Linked DNA regions of Homo sapiens. The protein of the gene in region 3 interacts with the protein of the main gene of each other region in a pairwise test. Each region holds a gene or a part of one and is shown on either strand. Other genes may lie near its edges.

Region 1 (7,036 bases), on a different chromosome or scaffold from region 3:
ATGGCGGAACAGGTTGGCTTGTAATTAAGTGGATACTCACCATGACTGGCCCTGTTCTTTCCAATAGACCGTGAGTCCCCTAGAAGTTACTCATCCACTTTGACTGACATGGGGAGAAGTGCACCAAGGGAAAGAAGAGGAACTCCAGAAAAAGAGGTAGTTAATTTAATAGCATTGGAGTCTTTCACAGCAACACACTTGATACAGCACTTACCAGCCAAAAATTATCCCAAACCAGTAACGAACTCGGACAGGAAATGTGAAAATACTGAGAAACTAGAAACAATTTTCCTTGGGGCCTGAGCATAGCAACTCTGACCCTAGAAGCAGTCCACACCCTGACCCTAGCTGTGGGTCTTCCCTAGTGGTGGCCCAGTTTTGGCCATGAGGCTTCTCCGAGTCTTGACCTGATGCCCATGAACTTAACCATTATGACCTAAAAGTGTCCTGAGTTAGGGCACCTCGTGGAGGCAATAGGTTTCCTCTACAATTTCTTGGCCCGCTGGTCCAGGAGAAAGCCTGATGTCAACTGTGTTGTAAATCAATACAGAGCCTACAGAAATCATTTTTGCTGGCTTCCTTTTATTGGAGAGGATCCCTAAAAAGAGCTTTTAACCAGCCCAGTTCTCGGGATACTGCCCCTGGGAACCACCCACCAACTGAACTCTGTCCAGGGCCCTGAGCCGGGGCTAGAGTTCTTGCTCAAACTGCCTTGGAGCCATGACGGCTGGATGGAAACTAAAAGCTGGACTTGGACTGGTAGCCGCTCCAGAGGATCTTATAGGCGTCTGATGTAGTCCAGAGCCTGTGGGATCCCCAAAGAAGTTAGAAATGGTCCAGGATTCCTAAAGTTCACCAGAGTCATGGGGGAAAAGAATGGAGTGAAGGGATTGTTGGTTGGTGAGGAAGGAAGAGCTGGCCTAGCTAGCTATAGGGTACAGGGTACCTCAGGGAGATCTGTGGCCCCCAGAGTTTGAGGATGGGCACGTGTCACATCACATCACAACTAAAAGACGAGTGGCTGGTGGACAGAGTGTTGAAGGATTCCTGAGCCCTCTAGGGAATGCAAGATGATCACACCTATACTTTTGCCCACTAACCAGCCTCCCAGTGATAATTGAGCTAATATTTTTTGCTAATATGTTAATAAGTGTCTAATGAAGGGAATGATTACTTCTTTTATGACATCTGGTCCTTTTATTATGATTCAGAGGGAGCTGTGTCAATCTCCATAGAACATAGAGCCATTGACCCTCCACATTTATCCTAGGAAGAGCCTTTGTAACAGCCAAAATGATGCCTAGGATGCAAACCTCTGCAGGCATTTTATTCTCTCATTATAACATTAATCTACCTTAGTTCCTAAGATTAAATATGATGGTGAATAAGCCTTCTATTATATTCCTATTATAGCTTAAATATCTAAATGAAGAATGAATGGACTTATTTATAAATTGCTTACAGGATTAACATTACATATGTTTGATGATTCCCTGAGGTTTCCTTTTTCTTTAAGGCACATTAAACTACTTTCTTGTAGAAAATTCAAATTTTAAATTAGTGCTAATTGTTTATCTTCCTTTTCAGAAATTGCCTGCAAAAGCTGTTTATGATTTTAAGGCTCAGACATCTAAGTAAGTAAGATAAATACTCATCATATGATTTAAGGTGGTTTTAAATGTTAGTAATGCTTTAAGAGATAAGCATTGCAGTAGGATCTGTTACAAATGAGGTCTAATTCCCAATGCAGCAATCTACTCTAATTAAATGGTTCCTTCAGAATTACCTTTTATTTTAAGTTTAGTTGAGAATTACTGAGTTTTAAATTACATTAAACATGTTAGGTAGAACACAATGAATTCTAAAGGATAGGAAAAACAAAAAGAATTTAGGAATATTTGTTTTTAGAATTTTGTGTCAATAATGAATTAATGAAGTATTGGGGGCCAGGCACAGTGGCTCATGCCTGTAATCCCAGCACTTTGGGAGGCCAAGGCAGGCAGATGGCTTGAGCCCAGGAGTTCAAAACCAGCCTGGGCAACATGGCAAAACCATGTCTCTACAAAAAATACAAAAATTAGCTAGGCATGGGGGCATACACCTGTATAGTCCCAGCTACTCAGGAGGCTGAGGCAAAAGGATCGCTTCACCGGGAGGTAGACGCTGCCATAAGCTGAGGTTGCGCCACTGCACTCTAGCCTGGGCAACAGAGCAGGACCCTGTCTCAAAAAAAAGAATGAATAAGTAAATAAATAAAGTATTGGGGAGTAATTAACACTAGCTGGGGGAATTTGATAACATTTATTTATCCAAATATTCCAAGCATAGTTTGTGGGGTTGATGACTAGAACTTAGTACAAAGATTCCTGTATTGAAGTCTCCATCCTCAGCCTGCAAAGCTCAGAGATTCTGAGCAAAGTTTTCTCCTTTGGTCTTTTGGTGTCGGTGTTTTCACCATCCTGAATTGCAATATTTCTTTTGCCTTTATTCTTTGCTCAGCAGATAGGCATGTGGTTGCGGAAGCACATAAGCAGACTTATATATAAGAGGGTGTTGCCCAGATTTTTTGTGGCCTATGTGCACAGACCTTTAAGAAACTTTGTTCTCCAGTAGAATTCAAGACAGATATTGAATTCATTGTAAATTGTCATTAAATTATTATATGTTGTTTACACTGAATATATATATATATAATAACCAAAATAATTTACTCATAAAAATGCATATAATATGAGTTAATAGCTCTAGAAACTGTCTCTGGCAGAAGACATATATAAATAAATCACTCAGAATTTGGTAATGCTGCTGAGATAGGAAATGAACTAGATAAGAAAAATCCTGTTTAGAAATTAAGATGTTGAACATGGCTTAAATCTGGCCTGAAGAAAAGCTTACATCTTTTTTTTTCAAATTAGAGAAATAAGATGCTTTGTTTCTACTGTACTCCGGTCCTAACTACTGTTCTGTGGATATGGTGTGACAATTTGTACAATGCATATCAGTTTTATAAAATAATGTTACGGAGCACACGTTTCATTTCTTCTTTGTAAAAATCAATCCATAGCTTTCTTAAATATATAAAAACCTGAGGAATGGCAGGGGATGTGAAGTAGGAAGGGTGTCCACCCAAGGCTCACGAGGTCTTCTGAGAAGTCTTAATTTTAAAAAGCAGCTGGGCACGGTGGCTCATGCCTGTAATCCCAGCACTTTGGGAGGCCAAGGCAGATGGATCACTCGAGGTCAGAAGTTCGAGACCAGCCTGGCCAACATGGTGAAACCCCGTCTCTACTGAAAATACAAAAATTAGCCAGGGGTGGTGGTGGGTGCCTGTAATCCCAGCTACTCAGGAGGCTGAGGTGGGAGAATCACTTGAACCTGGGAGGTGAAGGTTGCAGTGAGCCAAGATCACACCACTGCACTCCAGCCTGGGTGACAGAGCAAGACTCCATCTCAAAAACAAATAAAAATAAAAGTGAGGGGAAAAAAGCAAATGGGACTTTAAAATTCTAGGTCTGAGATGAGAGGGACACAGTTTTGAAAACTTAAGAGTAAGACTTTCCTGTGTCTTAAGGACTTCAAAATTTTAAATGCAACCTATACAAATACAAAAGAGTCTTTTTCATAGCTTTGAAAAATTGGTTGCCTCTGATTCATATGTTCATATTATATTTTAAAAAGCTAGTCTCATTTCCAGAAACAAAACATACCTAGTACAAATGAAACTGTTGTGTTGTGAACATTAAATATCTTGCTTTGCTTTGTTTTCTGTTTTTTACATTAGGCATTTGCACAAAAGAAGGAAGCACTGTATTTGAATGTAAAGCTCCATGAATCTTCTTTGTTTTTAGGGTTACTGAAAATTTAACACATTTTCAATTGTGAAGATTTTAGCACTTCTAAATGTGTGATCATTCTTTTAATATACCACCATTTTTTCGATTAATTCTTTTAATCAATGAGAAGTGTTCTCCATCAGGTATAAATCTCTCTCCATCAAACGGCCTATACTAATAAATGATCCAACTGAAAATTCTGAACCAAAATTTTTTAAAAAAAGATTAAAAAATGAAAATTCTGAACAAAACAATGCAGAAGATTCCAGAGTGGGAGGGCAGATGTATTGCAAAATGAGGCTCTTGGGAGAAGATACAAATTAATCGCCCTCCATCCAAGAATAATTGCGGAGGCAAAATAATGAACCAACCTAATCACCTGGGTGATTAAGCCAGGAAAAATTGATGTAGTGAAGGTGATAAGTTTAGGTGTGAATTATTCAAAATGCATAATGTCATTATAACTTAAAATTATAAATACCCAAATCAAATATACCTACAATTTTCTTAGAAACAGCCAAAATTGAAAAATATAGTGTCTTAAAAATATTTTTATTTTTTGTAAATAAAAGATAGAAAGGCAAGCATTGGCATATGTCTTTGCACTTAAAACACATTCTTCTTGCCCCACTGAAAATTAAAAGTGTAAGATCTTTTCTGTTACACAAAATAAATTCCTTATCAAGATATTCTATTAAAATACCTGTCAACCAACTTCAAAGATCCACAAATAAAATTTGTTCTGGTGTTGGCACTTCTATTCTGAGGCTACATGATATTTGTTTTCCTTCATGTAAGCTTCAGTACATCAAAAGGGGCTGGGGGGCTAGTAACTAACTAGCCAACTAGCTTCAGGACAAAAAAAAAAAAAATCAGTGCAGAACTATTCCATCATTTTTCCAAGCTTCAAAATGCCTCTTCTCTGAACTAATGGTAAAGTAGCAAGAGTCTGTCCCCTCCTTTAAACTTCTTATTAATCTGTCTGTGATTTATATCCAATGGAATGTTTATACTTACTCTGTTTGAAATCATTTCTAAAGTTATAATGTTTTAAGTGCATTCTAAGAATTTGCAAGGATCATTCTTATCTAATCGGACTCAATATCAATTGGATTTTTTAATATTGTAAGTATATTTGCCAAACAAATGCAGATCTAGCGAGGGTGTTGATCTTGAGAATTATTGCTGTACATCACAAAAAGACCATGTCAACGTGTCTCTTCCAGGGAGTTGTCATTTAAGAAAGGAGATACTGTCTACATCCTCAGGAAAATTGATCAAAATTGGTATGAGGGAGAACACCACGGGAGAGTGGGCATCTTCCCGATCTCATACGTAGAGGTAGGTCCTCTCCCTTTCTCTCTTGGATGGCGGTGGTTTCAAAGGTCACCGCAGATTTGAGAATAAATGACTATTTCCTTCATAGAAACTCACACCTCCTGAGAAAGCACAGCCTGCAAGACCACCTCCGCCAGCCCAGCCCGGAGAAATCGGAGAAGCTATAGCCAAATACAACTTCAACGCAGACACAAATGTGGAGCTGTCACTGAGAAAGGTAGCCCAGCTGGTTTTTTGTTTGTTTGTTTTTGTTTGTTTGTTCTTCAGTGGGTTTGAAAAGGCTGTATATTTTCAAAACTAAAATAGGTTATCTTTTTCTTTAGACATTTTTATGTTTACCCTATTTTCTACAAAGGACTCTTTAAGGCAGCCCAGAGTCACGGTTCCCTGCTGGTCCCTGTGTCCTTTTAGAGGAGTTCCCCGTGGGATACCAGGCTTCTCCCTCTGTGGCTTAGTCTGGGAAGCCGGGCATGGGGCTGAAAATCAAGGACTTATACATTCGGGAGCACAAAAGGAAAAAGCAGTTTGATACACTTCAAAATATGTTGTTTTGCTGCCTTATTTTTCAGTCTTTTAAAAACAAGATATTCCAATCCTTATCTTCCTCTATCTTGGAATCTAGGAATGGTCCTAGGTAAAGAAGATCCTTCCTCTTGGGGGAGCCGCTTTAAGAGCCATCTCTGCAGTGCTCTTCCCTGGATCATCCTTCTTTGGGCCTCATAATTGACCCAAATTTCTCTAGCAGCCCATCCAATCCTAGTATCTCTTCTTAATAATATCAAAAGCCTCGAGGCCGGGCATGGTGGCTCACGCCTGTAATCCCAGCACTTTGGGAGGCCAAGGCAGGTGAGCGAGATTCCATCTCAAAAAAAAAAAAAAAAAAAAAAACACAAAAAAACAATCAAAAACCTCTTTTAACCTGCTAGTTTACATAATTGAGAATGATAAATGAATTATTCTTATTGCTTTCTAAATATGACATATATTTGTTTGAGGTAACTGCCTCTGCACACAACACAGGCGAGGTAGTAATATTTAGAGTGGCTCTAGGACCTCCCACACCTACTAGTGAAATCCTTAGCCAGGTGCGATGAAGAGCAATACCACAGTCCTGGTTTGTTCTGGTCCTGGCAGAACCTTGTCTCATTCTCTCCCATCAGTCTTAATTCTGCATCATCAGCCGATTCCTTCTTTCCTATCCTCTGGGCTGCCCCACCTAGCATGAGAACCACAGAGCATTACATGAACTCTGTCTCCTGTTCCATGTTCTACAGAAAGGCTTCACCAATGCCTCTTACAGCTCACACAACAGCCTAGCAACTACCTGTTCTTGGTATACTAGAAAATCGGTGCAATTTTCAGATTTGGGGAGACTGACTTTTTTTTTTTTTTTTTTTTTTTGAGATGGAGTGTCACTCTGTCACCCAGGCTGGAGTGCAATGTGTGCTCTCAGCTCACTGCAACCTCTGCCTCCCAGGTTCAAGCGATTCTCCCACCTCAGCCTCCCGATTAGCTGGGACTACAGGTGCCCGCCACCACACCCGGCTAATTTTTGTATTTTTAGTAGAGATGGGGTTTCACTATGTTGGCCAGGCTGGTCTCGAACTCCTGACCTCATGATCCGCCCGCCTTGGCCTCCCAAAGTGCTGGGATTACAGGCGTGAGCGATTGCATCCAGCCTGAGACTGACTTTTCTTGAGTATGTTCTGCTCAGCGGTGGTGAAGCACACAAAATCAACCATCCAGCGTTTCAACACAAAGAGAACTTCCAAGTGCTACTCAAGGTCGAAGTTCTTCTTGGGTAGCACCTGAAGAAGGGTGCCCTGTTGGGCTGAGATTAATGACTGTTTCAGCTCCATCACACC
Region 2 (4,926 bases), on a different chromosome or scaffold from region 3:
GTAGAATCCCCAGAGGCTGGGAGATTCCGAAGCAGTGGGACTCATACCCCCATCCCAGGTAGAACCCCAAGAAAGGAGCCAGATCCCAGAAGAAACAGGGTGGCATGGGGTGTCTAAGCGGCACCCCAGAGCTCCCTGTGCTTGACTGCGAAGTGGGAGCTGTGGAATGATGACCACAGGCCCCAGAGGGGGCCACAGGCCACAGAAAGGACCTCTATCAGCCCCTTAGTACAGGGCAAATGGAAGGAGCCCTGAGTGCCCAAGAGCAGAGAAGAGCCAGACACACAGAGACTCAGGATGGGCATCAAGGGAGCATGCAGGGGAAAGGCAGGAGGCAGGGCAAGATGATCGGAGGGCCCAATGCTGACCAGGACCATGGCGGGCATCGCAGGCCCAATGGCAGCATCCAGGTCCAGGAGTTCTGCAAGAAGCAACCCGTAACAATGTGTGCTGCTGGGTGGGCAGGGCGGGGAGGAGGGAAGAGAGCAGAGCACCAACAGAAAGGGGCAAAATCAAAATTAATACCGTTTAATTAAGTATCTACAAGACAGGACACAAGTCATAAACTGAACCCTTTAATGTGGAATGCAGGTAAATATTAATATGTATGATAGAGTGTGGGATTCAGCCTTTAAAATGCAAAGCTCCCTAAGGTCTTCAAATGTGCCATCCCCAAAAGTTCTACACATCCCTGGGGAAAGAAAGGGTCCCCAAATTGATGTGAGATTACACTTCTACCATGTGGGGAATGGGGGAGGAAAACAGAAATTCAGGTCAGATATAAAAAAAAATTAAGTTATGTTCCTCACTCATGTTCCTTTGTAAACGGAGCTCCTGAGTCACTGCAGCTGTCACCGTGCAGTGCCATCTTCAGACCCTTCATCCCTCAGGGCTGGGGGGACTCACCCTACCCTCTCACCCTTCACATTTCAGCCGTTGGGTTCACCAGCCTCCTATCCCTTCACTCATCTAGAGGGGAAATCTGCCTCCCCTTCTTCCTTTGGCCCTAAATGAGTTCATCAGTGTGACTCTAAGGAGTGATGGCAGGGAGCTGGGTTTGAGTCCAGCCCCGCCAGAGATTCCCTGTGTGAACCTAGGCAGGTCCCATCTTCCCTCTGGCCAAGTCTCAGTCTCTTTGTTGCGAAAGGGAATAAATGCTGCCTACTGGGGCTGCTGAGCAGATCCAGGCCACAGCTATGCGACACTACTTCTTAAACAGACTGCACTGCACTGGGGTTTGACCAACAAAACAAAACCAAACCAAAAGAAAAAAAAAGTTTGTGTTCAACTATGTTGAACAGAGCTGGGTTTCACAATCAGCCCTTCTGAGCTATGTCGGGGGGTGGTGAGGTTTGATTTTTCCCCATGGTCTTCCTACCAGGGCTCACCGTCTTCTCCTGCCCCAGCCAGTGGAGAGGGGAACCAGAGCCGAACTAGTGGGGAAGCAGGTTAGGGTGGGTGGGGGAGCTGAGCAGGCTTGGCTCCTGGAGGCCTGAGTCAGCGGGCAGGCGGGCAGGGCGGGCTGGGTCCTCACATGCTTGGGGAGGAGATGGTGCAGGAATGTTCCTCCCGCCCAGGCCTAGGCCCTGCCCACCGCATCCTGGCTCCGGCTCCCGTGGCCACTGCAGCTCAGCTCTAGCTTGAGAAGGGAGCTGCCTGGAGCTCTGCTGGATCGGTTCAGCCAGGGGCCTTCAGAGGCAGCCTGGCCCAGAGGATTGGCCCAGGGGAGGGCAGGGCCAGGAAACAGAGTCTGCCCAGAGCCAGGCTCTGGCCCCAGAGTATCCCCTGCCCTGCTGGGTGATAAGGCCAGCCACCACTGCTCCCTGGGCCTCAGGCGCCCATCTGTTCAATAAGGAGCTGAACTTGGTGGTATCCAGTCATCCCAATTGCATCCCTAGACCTCAGGCTGTGTGCCTGTATGTGGTGCTTGTGACTGGCTCTACTCCCCCTTGGAGACACCCCCTCCAGGGGTGGTGTCTCCAAGCAAAGCTCTCCTTAATCTCTGATGAGGTGGGGACCCTGGGAGGTCATGCAGGTGCAGTCCAGGCACAGAGATGCTTATGACACCTTTGCTCTGTGCAAGCATGGCTTTGTGGCGGTGTGTGCCCGAGTATGTGTCACTGTGTGAGGCTATGACCATGTGCATAGGACTGTGGTGTGGCTGTGTCTGACAAAGTAGCCACTGGTGCTTTGAATGGATGGCAAGGCATGTGTGGCTGTGGCTGTGAATGTGTAATAGCGTGTGGCAGTATGACTGTGTGAGCATACAGGCATGCTTATGTGGCGTATGTGCCTGTGGGCAGGTGTGTGACTGCGTGTGCTTGTTGTGAGACTGAGCGATTACATTCGTGAGTCTGTGAGTGTGTAGACACGTGGAAGACATATGGCTCTGTCATCTGGGAGGGGTGGTGCAGAGCAGGGGCCGATGGGGCCACCTGCCTCTCCCAGGCCTGGCTCTGCTCCAGCCAGTGGTGCAGCCACGGCACAGTGGTTCATAGCCCTCCTGTGTCCAGCGGGTGAAGAGATGCAGGATCTGAGGTCTGCTTCCATCCCCAGCCCCCATCTGTGGCCACAAAGCGGATTCCTTTTCCTGTACTGGGCCAAGACTGGTGACCAGGGGATCCCCTACCCCGGGTGCTGGTAGCTGTCCAGGGCAGAAAGAGAAGCCTTGTTTTCCACCCCCTCAGAGCAAAGTAAGGGAGGAAACGAGGCAGCTGGGTCCAGCCGAGTCGGGAACATCTGCCTGGCATGTGACGAGGCAGGAATCGGCCATCACCAGGATGCCCCCAACACTGGTCCCCCAATCTCCTGCTGAAAGGGGCTTAGCTACCCCAGAACGGCCCCAAGTTCCCCCAATACCCCCACCCCCATAGAGGCAGAAAGAAAAGAGAGAGGAGGGCCAGGACAGCCTCCCTCCCTGCCACACACACACCTGCCCCAGCCCAGAGACCTCAGGATACCAGGAGCAGGCCTGGCATTATCCCAAGACTCCACTTCCTGATGCTTCTCCTGGATCCAAGTCCCTCCTGAGAAAAGTATCAGACTGATGGCCTCACCCTGAGGATGGAAGGCCTGGGAGGTGGTCCCCTCTCAAGGAAGGCACACAGAGGACAACACTGTTCCCAGAGCAGGAAGCATGAGCAGGGGACTTTCCAGGCACCATGGGTTAGGAGGAGCATTCCCACCAGCCCTGCCTCGGCCTGGCCCAGCCCCCACTGCTCAGAGCCCCTTCTGCAGATGGCTACATGGATGGCAGAGCTGAGAAGAGGTTAAGGGCGGGAAGTTCCTCGGATGGGTTAGAAAATGGGGCAGGGTGGAGAGAGGGGAAAATTCCTCAGAAAGTCCCAAATCTGACCTAATGTTGACCAAGGGCCAGGGGGACCCATTCCAGAAGTTCCTCTGAGGACGCTATGCCCTGAACAGGGAGTCCTGCCCGCCCCTTCCCCCACCGCACCTGCTGGCCCTTCTCCATCTTCCTGCACAAGCTCCCTGGTCCCTGGTCTAGCCAACCTTCCCTGACGGCCTTGACCCTGGAAGCCCTCCCTCCACCAAGTCCCCATTGCCTCCAAAGGAGAGCCAAGTCTCAACCAGTACCCTCCTCTCATCTGTGGATGAACAGATCCAAGAGCAAGGTCCGCTCATCCTGATCAGGGCACCCCCAACAGCCAGCGTCCTCTTCAGTTTCCAATGTGGGAGCCTCCGCAGGGCTGGGTACCCAGGACGGTTTGGGGAAGAGACACAGCTTCTGAGTCCCCCACTTCCCTCCCCTGGACTAGGGCTTTTCAAGGGCAAGGCCAGGGCATGGCTCCTTGGGGAGAGGAGCCACCATCTATTAATTGTCCTAGGGCACAGCGTCCTGTCCCTTCCTCATACAACCCTCAGCCCCAGATCACAAGGCAGTACAGCCAGTCCCCTGGGCAGCACTCCACCTGTTTTAGAGACAAGAGTGCGTTCTAGGGAGGGATGGATCCACCCAGGGGTCCACAGCCGCCTCTAGCTCCTCCTGCCTGCTGGCACCTTCCACCAGCATAGCCCTCCCCTGAACTTTTGAGGTTCTGTGGAAAATTTGTGCCCACCACGACCTCAGAATCTCATCCAATGGCTCTCAGGAGCAATTAGGGCTCTATCCTTCTCCTGCCCTCCGCCTTTCTGGGATCCAAACAGAAAAAGTCATGCTTGTGTTATCTTAATTGTAAAAGGTTTATCAAGAAAAAAGATTCAAGGAGCAGCATCCAGGAGGAGACCATGACCCCCCCGGGGGCAAGGGGGGCAGTGGTGACACATGTCAGCACCCCACAGCAAGCTGCTGGACCACACCCTGACCTGGGTGGGGAGGAGGCAGAAACCCCTCGGGGATGTAAACATAGGTCAGAGACAGCACAACCTGACGGGGAGCAGGGGCCCACATTCCAGCGAGGCAGACAGAGGGCAGGTGGGCATGGAATCCCTCGCATGGCTGGGCAAGCAGGCCCCTGTCTTTTTCCTCTTAGGTTTCCCATTGTGCAACAGGAAGGATCTTGGGAAGACAGTGCCACAGAGCCCAAGGACCCTGAGATCCTGGGTTTGGACCTGCTTCGAGTGTGGGGAGTTATTGCTGGTGAACTCAAATATACAGTCACTTTTGAGAGTCTTCTCCAGGAAGGTGTCACCAGGGATCTGGGGCCCAGGGCTTATACCTCAGCACCTTGAGTCCGAGGAGGGGAGGATGCTGCAATGGTCCCCTGCCCGAGATAAGCTGAGGGCCCAAAAGTGGAGGGGAGTCAGAGGCCTACAGGAGGGAGATGGCCTGTAGCCCCCTCCTGCAGGGGACAGGGTGATGTACGGACAGCCAGCAACATGGGAGCAAGGGAGATCCCTTCCTACCACACAGGCCAGAATCCCCATGGAAAGCGTACCTAACTTGCTTGGAAAGTAAGGGAGAGAAGA
Region 3 (5,165 bases):
TCTCCCTGGGGCTGGCGACAGTGGACATCCAGAACCCTGACATCACGAGTTCACGATACCGTGGGCTCCCAGCACCTGGACCTAGCCCAGCTGATAAGAAACGCTCAGGGAAGAAGAAGATCAGCAAAGCTGATATTGGTGCACCCAGTGGATTCAAGTGAGAGCCACTCCCCAGTGGACCCACAGATTCCTGGGGGCAGAGGGGCACATGAACAAGTGGACAGCTGAGTGAATGGAAGGATGGGCAGATGGGCAGATGGCTGGGTGGCTGAGTGGGTAAATGGGTGGTTGGATAGGTAGGTGCAGGGCTGGGTCTAGGGAGAGGTAAATAAGGCACCAAGGGTACAAAATTTAAGGAGGCACTCACTCTCAGAGGCATGCAACTGTAATTCCTGACTCTCAGAGTGAGTGACTCACTTAAATTTTGCACCCTAGGCACCTTACTTGCCTCACCCTGGGCCCACTCTGGGTGGGCTGTTAGGAGAGCAGGTGGGTGGGCAGGTGAACAAATGGATAGATAGATGAGGTAGATGATGGATGAGAAGGGCTGGTGGGTAGGTGGGTGAGTGGATGGGTGGATGGATGGATAAATGAATGGATGAATGAATGGGTTGAAGAATGAATGGATAAGTGGTTGGATGGACAAGTTTATGGGTGGATGGGTTGATGGGAGGTGCGTGGATAGATAGATGGGTGAGTGGATAGGTGTGTGGACAGATTGATATGCAGGCTGATTGGCTCACAGACAAGGTGGATGGGGATGGACAGGTGGACAGATACGTGGATGAATGGACAGTTCAATGGATAAGTGAACAGAAGTGTGTGGTTGCATGGGTAGAAAAATGAGTGGATGGATAGATGGAAAGGTGGGCACATGGGTAGGTGGATGGGTGGATGGACAAGTGTGTGTGAGGACAGACTGGTGGACAAATGGGTGAACAGACATATGTGGGCAGATAGTTGCAGAGACAGATGTATGGACAGATCAGTAGTCCAACAGATGAATGTGAATGAATAGGTGGACAAATGCATGGGATAGATGGGGAAAGAGGGATGGGTGGATGGATCAGCACCACAAACTATGGAGCCCTTCTAATTCCATAACTCCTGCCTATACTCATTCACTCATTCAGTCTCATTCATTAATTCTGGCCCCTCAGAGTCTCTTTGGGCAGGAGAGGGCAAGAGGGTTTCACTATGAAGGGAGGGAAGGAAGGGCAGTGAGGATTCACTGGAGTCTCTTCACCTCTCCCAGGCATGTCAGCCACGTGGGGTGGGACCCCCAGAATGGATTTGACGTGAGTAACTTCAGAGTCTCTTGGACTCCACTAAACTTCCACCCACCCTTCCAAAGACCACTGCTGAGACCCCACCCCCAGATCGTGCCCTTCCCACACCCCTCTCAGATCCCTTGCTGGGATGGACCCAACGACAATCCATGTCGCTTGTCTCCTCGCCTTATTCCTCTACTCCTGCCCCTGGCCTTTTTCCTCCTGGGCAGGTGAACAACCTCGACCCAGATCTGCGGAGTCTGTTCTCCAGGGCAGGAATCAGCGAGGCCCAGCTCACCGACGCCGAGACCTCTAAACTTATCTACGACTTCATTGAGGACCAGGGTGGGCTGGAGGCTGTGCGGCAGGAGATGAGGCGCCAGGGTGAGACCCTGCTTCCATACGCTCCCTTCTCTAGCCCAAGCAGCTCATAGCTAAGATACGCACTAAGTCACTCAGTCCTTATGGGAGCACCTATACTGCTTCAGTCAGGAGTTGGTCAGTGGGGGTACCCATTTTACAAATGAGCAAAACTGAGGCTCAGAAGAAATCAATGAGAGTTACAGCTATGTGTTATACCCCCTCCACAGAGCCACTTCCGCCGCCCCCACCGCCATCTCGAGGAGGGAACCAGCTCCCCCGGCCCCCTATTGTGGGGGGTAACAAGGGTCGTTCTGGTCCACTGCCCCCTGTACCTTTGGGGATTGCCCCACCCCCACCAACACCCCGGGGACCCCCACCCCCAGGCCGAGGGGGCCCTCCACCACCACCCCCTCCAGCTACTGGACGTTCTGGACCACTGCCCCCTCCACCCCCTGGAGCTGGTGGGCCACCCATGCCACCACCACCGCCACCACCGCCACCGCCGCCCAGCTCCGGGAATGGACCAGCCCCTCCCCCACTCCCTCCTGCTCTGGTGCCTGCCGGGGGCCTGGCCCCTGGTGGGGGTCGGGGAGCGCTTTTGGATCAAATCCGGCAGGGAATTCAGCTGAACAAGGTGAGGACAGGCAGGATGGAGGATTGGGGGTCTAGGACTCTGGGGTGTCCCGTCTAAGTCAGGATACTGGGGGGCTGAGGCCAGGACTGAGGAGAGTGCCAGGCCTTAGGGATTCAGTGATAGGGTTGAAAGGTTGGTGGGAAGCCTTGAAGGGGACTGGAGTGTGTGGGAGAGAAAATATTGATGGAGGGGCGGGGAGAAATGCTCCTTTCCCAGGCCCTAAGCCCTCTGTGCTGATCCCTGCCTGCTGCAGACCCCTGGGGCCCCAGAGAGCTCAGCGCTGCAGCCACCACCTCAGAGCTCAGAGGGACTGGTGGGGGCCCTGATGCACGTGATGCAGAAGAGAAGCAGAGCCATCCACTCCTCCGGTGAGCTGATCCTGCCGGGGCCTCAAACCTGGCTCCCAGGGCTAGCACTGGCCTCAAAACAATCCCAGCAGTCACCACCAATAGTGACATCAGCCCCATCTGTTTGACAGCATTAACATGAATCTTGTGTCAGCCTCGTTTTTGACAATGTTAACATTAAGTCATTATGTGACAATAATATAATTAACTCCAACTTTGACAGTAATATTAACATTAATGCCAGGGTGTGTCCACAATATTAATGTCATTCCCACATGTTCAGTACTATTAACATCAGCTGGCCGGCGCGGTGGCTCATGCCTGTAATCCAGGAACTTTGGGAGGCTAAGGCAGGAGGATCACTTGAGCCCAGGAGTTCGAGACCAGCCTGGGCAATATAGTGAGACCTCGTTTCCATAAAAACTAAATTCAAAAAAAGTAGTCAAGCATAGTGGTGTGTGCCTGTGGTCCCAGCTACTTGGGAGGCTGAGGTGGGAGGATTGCTTGACCCTGGGAGGTCAAGGCAGCAGTGATCCATGATTGTGCCACTGCACTCCAGCCTGGGTGACAGAGATCCTATCTCAAAAAAAAAAAAAATTAACCCATTATGTGATGACAATATTATGAAGAACACTATTGTTGACAATATTAATTTTAATTCCATGTATTAACAGATTTACATTAATTCATTATGACGTAACCTAATCTAATCTTTTAAAAAATTTTTTTGAAACAGGGTCTCGCTCTGTGTCCCAGGCTGGAGTACAGTGGTGCAATCATGGCTCAGTGCAGCCTCAACCTCCCAGGCTCAAGCGATCCTCCCGCCTCAGCTCCCAAAGTAGCTGGGACTACAGGCGTGTGCCACCATACCTGGCTAATTTTTGGTGTTTTTTTGGTAGTGATGAGCTCTCACTACCAAGCTCTCACTACTCTCATGTTGCCCAGGCTGCTCTGCAACTCCAGGGCTCAAGCGATCTGCCCCGCCTCAGCCTCCCAGAGTGCTGGGATTACAGGCATGAGCCACCAGGCCTGGCTGTTAACCTAATCTTTTTATAATAATGTTACTATTACTCTCTTAATCTGTCAGCAATACTGTCACTAATCCATTATATGATGCAAATATTAGTATCAACCTACTATAGGAACTTCATCTTTCGACAATGATTTTTTTTTTCTTTTGAGACGGAGTCTTGCTCTGTCACCCAGGCTGGAGTGCAGTGGCGCGATCTTGGCTAACTGCAGACTCTGCCTCCTGGGTTCAAGCGATTCTCCTGCCTCAGCCTTCCGAGTAGCTGGGACTACAGGCACGCCACTACGCCCAGCTAATTTTGATGTTATTGTCATTAACCCCATTATGTGTCAAAAATATTAGCGTTAACCAGACAGGAAGCAATAATATATTATCACACCTTTGCTAATATTATTTAAATTCACCCTATTATGTGATAAATAGGTTAACATTAACCCTTTGTTTGACAATATCTCGACTAACCACATTTTTGACAGCATAAACTTCAACTCCAACTAGAACTCAGACCCCAACTATAATCCCTTTCTTGTCCCAAATGGAAACTCTAACTTGCCCTCCTCTAGCATGAGACCTCAGAACCCCAGGGTCCAGTCCTCACCTCCCAGGCCCTATGAAGCCCCCCACCAACCTCCCAGGGCATCTTATCTTTCTCTTTCCCTCCAGACGAAGGGGAGGACCAGGCTGGCGATGAAGATGAAGATGATGAATGGGATGACTGAGTGGCTGAGTTACTTGCTGCCCTGTGCTCCTCCCCGCAGGACATGGCTCCCCCTCCACCTGCTCTGTGCCCACCCTCCACTCTCCTCTTCCAGGCCCCCAACCCCCCATTTCTTCCCCACCAACCCCTCCAATGCTGTTATCCCTGCCTGGTCCTCACACTCACCCAACAATCCCAAGGCCCTTTTTATACAAAAATTCTCAGTTCTCTTCACTCAAGGATTTTTAAAGAAAAATAAAAGAATTGTCTTTCTGTCTCTCTATAAATCTCAGTCTGTTTACATTCCAAATGTGGGAATGGGGTCCCTTTCCCCCAAAGTCCCTTTTATTCATTTATCCCATTTTATTTATTTAGCCTTACATGTATATATTCATTCATTCATTTATTCCCTCAGTCATTTAGCCTGTATTTCTTTGTTTCCTTCTGCCCCTCTGTCTTTCAACATTTATTGTCAGGTACTATTTTAGGGGCTAGGAATCAAGAAGTGGGAAAAAAAACAGACAAGAATTCCTGCCCTTAGGGGGTGAAATCCACATTCTAGGGGAAGAGACAGACAAGAAACAAGAAATCAAATAGAAATAAAAGATAGCTGCAGATCATGATAAATGCTGTGGAGTGGTAAGGCAGAGATACAGATGAAACAACATTCAGATGGAGCAGTCAGGGATGGTCACTTGGAGTAGGTGATGGTGGTGCTGGACCTAAAGAGAGAGAAATGTCGGCCCAGTTAATATTTGGGGAAAAGGGGTTCCAGGCTGAGGGAGCAGCCAGTGCAAAGGCCCTGAGGTGAGAAAAGGCTTGG

What was found.
Region 1: the proteins of WAS (region 3) and SORBS2 interact in binary tests that used the Homo sapiens proteins (3 or more experiments, as listed by UniProt).
Region 2: the proteins of WAS (region 3) and SNX33 interact in binary tests that used the Homo sapiens proteins (3 or more experiments, as listed by UniProt).

The regions. Positions count from the first base shown.
Region 1 is NC_000004.12:185,613,183-185,620,218, reverse strand, and holds part of SORBS2 (sorbin and SH3 domain-containing protein 2), read left to right. Parts: intron 1-67; coding exon 68-156; intron 157-1,587; coding exon 1,588-1,634; intron 1,635-5,059; coding exon 5,060-5,174; intron 5,175-5,259; coding exon 5,260-5,388; intron 5,389-7,036. UniProt on the Homo sapiens protein: Adapter protein that plays a role in the assembling of signaling complexes, being a link between ABL kinases and actin cytoskeleton. Can form complex with ABL1 and CBL, thus promoting ubiquitination and degradation of ABL1.
Region 2 is NC_000015.10:75,657,888-75,662,813, reverse strand, and holds the end of SNX33 (sorting nexin-33), read right to left. Parts: 3' UTR 513-4,926; downstream 1-512. UniProt on the Homo sapiens protein: Plays a role in the reorganization of the cytoskeleton, endocytosis and cellular vesicle trafficking via its interactions with membranes, WASL, DNM1 and DNM2. Acts both during interphase and at the end of mitotic cell divisions.
Region 3 is NC_000023.11:48,686,799-48,691,963, forward strand, and holds the end of WAS (actin nucleation-promoting factor WAS), read left to right. Parts: coding exon 1-157; intron 158-1,255; coding exon 1,256-1,298; intron 1,299-1,501; coding exon 1,502-1,655; intron 1,656-1,861; coding exon 1,862-2,268; intron 2,269-2,521; coding exon 2,522-2,636; intron 2,637-3,351; coding exon of another isoform or gene 3,352-3,671; exon of another isoform or gene 3,672-4,308; coding exon 4,309-4,364; 3' UTR 4,365-4,629; downstream 4,630-5,165. UniProt on the Homo sapiens protein: Effector protein for Rho-type GTPases that regulates actin filament reorganization via its interaction with the Arp2/3 complex. Important for efficient actin polymerization. Possible regulator of lymphocyte and platelet function.